Regions from separate parts of the Homo sapiens genome. Here region 1 is linked to region 2. The links come from fine-mapping of genetic effects on gene expression. Tissue or cell type: thyroid. Region 2 holds a variant in brackets; the other region holds the start of a gene. All regions are shown on one strand. Distances are between the middles of the regions.

Evidence for each region. PIP is the estimated chance that this variant, and not a neighbour inherited with it, causes the effect.
Region 1: TUBGCP6 starts here. The variant in region 2 is fine-mapped to the expression of TUBGCP6 in thyroid (GTEx, PIP 0.97).

The regions. Positions count from the first base shown.
Region 1 is chr22:50,243,509-50,246,182 of GRCh38, forward strand. It overlaps TUBGCP6 (tubulin gamma complex component 6), which reads right to left and starts at 1,515. Exons shown (of 25, transcript NM_020461.4): 1 at 211-1,515. The coding sequence starts at 951. HDAC10 (histone deacetylase 10) reads right to left here. Exons shown (of 20, transcript NM_032019.6): 18 at 2,402-2,584; 19 at 2,167-2,319; 20 at 1,675-2,022. The coding sequence ends at 1,999. RefSeq lists enhancers at 104-1,034, 608-887, 1,298-1,347 and a silencer at 1,818-1,887.
Region 2 is chr22:50,192,357-50,195,030 of GRCh38, forward strand. TRABD (TraB domain containing) reads left to right here. Exons shown (of 10, transcript NM_001320485.2): 2 at 671-737; 3 at 1,220-1,298; 4 at 1,984-2,150; 5 at 2,544-2,674. The coding sequence starts at 705. Among named protein-coding and RNA genes, the nearest start is that of TRABD-AS1, 7.1 kb to the right of the region's middle. RefSeq lists enhancers at 164-213, 294-383. The variant G/A (reference allele first, on the strand shown) is at 1,243.

The DNA of each region.
Region 1 (2,674 bases), 51 kb after region 2:
TCGGGAGGCTGAGGTACGAGAATTGCTTGAGCCCAGAAAGTGGAGGTTAAGGTGAGCCAAGATCGCGCCACTGCACTCCAGCCTGGGTGACAGAGTGAGACACTGTCTCAAAAAAAAAAAAAAAAAGAAGAAGAAGAAGAAGAAGAAAGGTCACAGGAAGCATTTTCCAAACCCCGAGAGAGATGAAAGAGGAAAAACTAAACATTCTACCTTAATAGCCAGCCCAGAGAGGTCCGCATTGTCTGGCACGGGGGGCAGGCCCAGTCGGACGTCCATGTCATAAGTGCGGCTGTGCACAAGGGCCCCGAAGAGCGAGACCCGGGTGTCTCTCTCGAACCTGTCACCACAAGGGTCACCAAATGAGAAGAGCCCGACGGTGGGCAGGCCAGTGCCTGGAGCAGCCTCCATAACCTGAAGTGTTTCCTGGATCATGCTGTGACACAAACACTCTTCTCTGGAGATCAGAGACTGAACGTCCATCTCAAACACACTCAGGTCGTCGCAATCATAGCCGCTGTACGGAACGTTTCTCCCCACATGCTTGTTGTTAAGGAAGTAGTCTCGTTTTCTCGGCAGAACTTGAGGGGGACCACTCCCTGCCAGCTGAACCAGGAGGTCCAAAACAGACCCCACCTCCAAAAGCGGACAGCAAGGGGCTGCTTCCAGCTCCTCCACAAGCTCCTCCAAACGGTCGGCCTTGGGGCCCAGGCCACCCACTCTCAAGTCAAAGGACAACATGAGGATCTTGTTTCTCGCTGGTAGTTTTGACATGTCAGGCTGCAGCTGTTGAGTCTCATCTTGAAAAAGATTTGTGAAAAGAGCATTGTAGGCCACCTTCTTGAGGCTCCGCTTTGCCCTCTTCCGGTTCACACTGCGCTGGCCCAGGTGAGTCTTGGCAGCCGGCAGGAGGGCCTCACACAGGTCGTCGAACAGCTGCGTGATGCTGGCCATGCCCCTTCTCAGCTCCGGGCCCCCGGCGTGTGGGAAAACACCTCACCCGGGCTTCACTCACGCTCCGGAAGACAGGGAGTGAGAGAGGGTCCGAAGAGGCTGAATGACAGGCGGCCTCTCCAATGCCGAAGCTCAGAACTGGTATTTTTTAAAGGAGGTCTTGCGGTTGCTCTACTCAGAGTAAACACGCCCTGCCCTCCCCAGTCCAAGCACGCTGCCCGGCGCCCGGCAGCCCACCAGAAGCCAGCTCGGCGTTTCTTCTAATTCAGTAGCCCTCAACCTTTAGGGAGTCACAGAACCGTGGCAAAACCGAAGAACGAAACGCGCGCCCGCGCAGTACAGCGGACGAACTCGGCTTTGCACCCGTTCTTCGGGACCCACGAGAGGAGACGGCCAGGAGAGGGTGCCACTCCGAGGGTCGTGGGCAGCGGAGAGTCTGGGGGCTCAGCCGGGTGGGTCCCGGGTTCTGGCCTGCACGTCCACCCGTTCTCCAGGCCTCACCCGTGGAAAGTGCCCACGGCTGCCGCTCTCGCCGCCTCCGTCGCGTCACAGCCGCGCCAGTGTGAAGAGCACTAGGGCGGGCGCGCCGGAAATACGTCACGGGAACGCCGGCAGCGCGTGAAGTTGGTGAGGCCTGGGCCGCGGCATACTTCCGGCCTGAGTCCGGCACCGCGGGTGAGAGACCGAGGCCGAGCGTGCTCAGTAAAGGAGGCAGAGCCAGCGTTTCGTTTGAGCGATGTTTACTAACGGCGCAAGGGCGGGGAGCGAAGCGCAGCGGGGCGCAGGGGCCGGAACGGGACCGAGCGTGGGTTGCATGGGCCTCGATGGGACGGGCCGGGGCGCGATGGGTGGGGCGGGGGCGAGGTGAGGTGAGGGGTGGAGCGGGGGAAGCACGGGTGGGAGAGGGCGGGGCGCGGGGATTGGGAGTGGGCGGGGTTCCGTGCCCCAGAGTCGAGGGAGCCGTGGGCTTGGGGTCCGGATCGCGGCCGCGGGGCGCTGGCGTGCGGTGTCATTTCTGCGGTGTAAATGCTCCCACCTTGGCCGATTTCAAGCCACCAGGTGAGGATGGCACTACAGGAGGAGCCGAGAAGAGGCGCGCAGTTGGCCTCCGGCGCTGGAGCTGGTTCAGGGCACTCCCCTGCCCTGCCCTCCCCACCGATCTGTGCGGCAGAGCCAGGCCCCAGGGCAGGGCCATGCCTCCGCAGTCAGCCTCACCTGCAACATCTTCCACTGAGGCTCCAGCTGCCCTCTCAGGTACATCAGGGCCTGGACGTCCTCTGGGGAGGCCACAGAGGAAGGGCCTAGGCTAGGAGGTGCCTCTCCATTCAGCACCCGGGCCAGGATCCCTGCTAGCTGGGGTGTGGAGTTCTGGACCAGGGGCGAAGACGGAAGCAGTCACTGGTCCTTTCCCTCGTCCCACCCCGCAGCACCTCCACCCTGCCCAGCTTACCTCCTCCAGGAGGGCCAGGACTCGGCCCCCTGCCAGCCCCCGAAGCATTGCAGCCAGGAGTGCAGCGTGGGGGCCCTGCAGGCCATGGCCAGGCCCCAGCGCCACCAGCACCAGGTCAGGCTGGAAGCCATAGGCCAGGGGCAGCACCAAGCCCAAGATGCAGCTCAGGAAACCACCGGTCATCTGTGGGGACAGCAGAGCCCAGCTCCTCATCTACGGACACCTGCTGGCTCTGGCCTCCCAACCTCCCAATCTCAGGGCCCCTGGAGTAGG
Region 2 (2,674 bases):
CGGCCTGAGCTCCTGGTTTCTGAGAGTCTGTGGGGAGCTGTGATGCCTCGGGGCAGCCCCCTCGTGTGGCTGCCCCAGCCTGTCCGGGTTTCTACCGTGGTTCCTTCCACACCATGTTTGTCTCTTAAAGTGGGAGAGAAGGTCTTAGGTCCAAACACGTTGATTTGTGTGCTTTGTGGATTCCTCCGTCTGTACTGACTCTGTGCCGGTGTTGTTGCCCAGGCTGTAGTTACTGAAAGGGGAAGTGGCTTTTGTACAAAGGCCCTGGGGTCCTTGCCATGTGTCAGCAGCTGCGTTGCTGTGTCCTGAGATCATGTGTGGACCCCAGGGCTGCCTTCCTATGTGTGCCCGCCGTGCCGCAGTGAGGGTTGGGCAGCTCTGGCCCTGTTCTGAGTGAGGCCTGTGCACCAGCAACCCGCCCTGGGCCCGTCTGCGTTTGGTTTATGCTGGGGTGTCTGGGGACCTGCTGGCCTTTCCCCACCCGGGCCTGACCTGAACCGACCCTGGACCTCAGCAGCCTTTGATGGGCAGGAGGCATTTGGGGATATGGGGGAAGGAGCCCCCAGGCCCACCCAACAGATGGTTCTAGACTGACAGGGCACTACGCAGTGAGTCCTGAGCCAGGTCTGGGGCTCCAGGTGGAAACCCCGCCTCTCATGCCTCTCCTCAGGCTCCCCACAGGTGCAGGAAGCCGCCGCCCAGCCATGGACGGGGAGGAGCAGCAGCCACCGCACGAGGTGAGGTGGAGGCTGGGCTGGCTGCACAGAGACAGGGGCGGGGGGCTTCCCCGCTTTGTGGGCTCTCGGGGTCGGTCCCTGGCTGTTGTTCTGCAAAGGTGATCTTCACAGGGTTCTCCAGGGTCAGGCAGGAGGCACCTCCGAGGGAGAGGGGCGCTGGGCTGAGGTGGCCTGGTGGCCCTGTCTGCCCAGCTTGATGGCAGCCGTGCCAGTGATGGCCAAGCAGGAGGGGTACTGACAGTGTGGGGCCTAGGCTCTACGGAGGCCCTGCTTTTCAGGGTGTGTGGTACACAGAGCGGCCACGGGTCCCTTTCCCGGGTACGTGGTCCGTGGAGCGGTCACGGGCCCTCGTTTTTCAGGGTGTGTGGTCCACACAGCGGCCACGGGTCCCTTTCCAGGGTACGTGGTCCGTGGAGTTGCCACGGAGCCCTGGCTTTCTGGGGTGCATGGACCCTGACTTGAACTCTCCTTTCCACCTGCAGGCCAACGTGGAACCTGTTGTGCC[G/A]TCAGAGGCTTCAGAGCCGGTGCCCAGGGTGCTTTCTGGAGACCCCCAGAACCTGTGTACGTGTCCCTCAGGGTCCTGGCACGTTCCCCGGTGTTGGGCTGTTGAGTCAGGGAGGAGGGGGAGGCAGCCAACCACTGCCAGGGGCTTGGAGCTTGTGGTGAGCAGGGGCCCTGGCCGAGACCTGAGGTAGGTGCTGCTAGGCCTGGTGCCACCCAACAGCAGCTGCTCCTGGGCCCTGCCTGGCAGTGGAGCCTCTTGGAGGGGCTGCAAGCAGCACAGGCAGGCCCCTGGGCATGGGGGGCTCGTGAGCACAAGCAGTGTGAGCGGCACGGGAGTCCCTCCTTGCTGTGGCCTCAGCCTGTCCCTCCTGAGTGGGGTGGGGGGGCCCATTTCGCCTCAGAGCCCCTCCCCTAGCTGAGCCCCCTGCGGCACCTGCCCCCACTGTCCCCCACACCGAACCTCATCCACAGCAACCCCCAAGGTCGCCCTCATGGGGTGTATGGGGCACAGGACTCCTGAGGCCCTGGCTTCTCGAAGCCGTGCAGCTCACAGAGGTGGTAGCCGGTGTTCCCATCACTGGGCAGGCAAAGCCTGTGGAGTGTGACGCTCGTCAGGAGTCTTGTGCTCTGCACCTGTTCAGTTCTCAGAACCCAGGAGGGTTCTAGAGCCCAGGCTGCCAGCGGGCCCGGCGGCGTCCTTGGGGTGGGCCCGGCACCACAACGGCCTGTGCTGCTGTTGCAGCCGACGTGGACGCCTTCAACCTGCTCCTGGAGATGAAGCTGAAGCGGCGGCGTCAGCGGCCCAACCTGCCGCGCACTGTGACCCAGTTGGTGGCTGAGGACGGGAGCAGGGTGTACGTGGTGGGGACAGCCCACTTCAGCGACGACAGCAAGAGGGACGTTGTGAAGGTGAGCGCCGCCACCCGCCACATCCCGGACACGGGTTGGTGTAAGCTCCTGTGTCCTGCACTCAGGGACCTCCCGGCAGGGCCCGTGTGCCCGTGTGTGCGCACCGCAGGCCTCCTGCTTCAACACTGTGGTCCCTGGGAGTGGCAAGGTGGGCTTCCTGCCTGGGAGCCGTGACGGCCTTGTGCGTTTTCCCACTTAACAAGTGAACAAGCCTCACAGCTTCCTCTCTCGTCGCTTAGAGAATTGAGCTGTCACTGCAGCAGCGGGGTTAGCTAGCCCTGGGGTGACGCCAAGGCTGGCTGCTCCTGGGATGGGGCCCCTGGTGCTGGCGTCAGCTGTGCTGAGGGGCAGGGAGCGGCTGTGTTCTCGAGGTGTGACCTGTGGCTGTTGCAGACCATCCGGGAGGTGCAGCCTGACGTGGTGGTCGTGGAGCTCTGCCAATATCGTGTGTCCATGCTGAAGATGGACGAGAGCACGCTGCTGCGGGAGGCCCAGGAGCTCAGCCTGGAGAAGCTGCAGCAGGC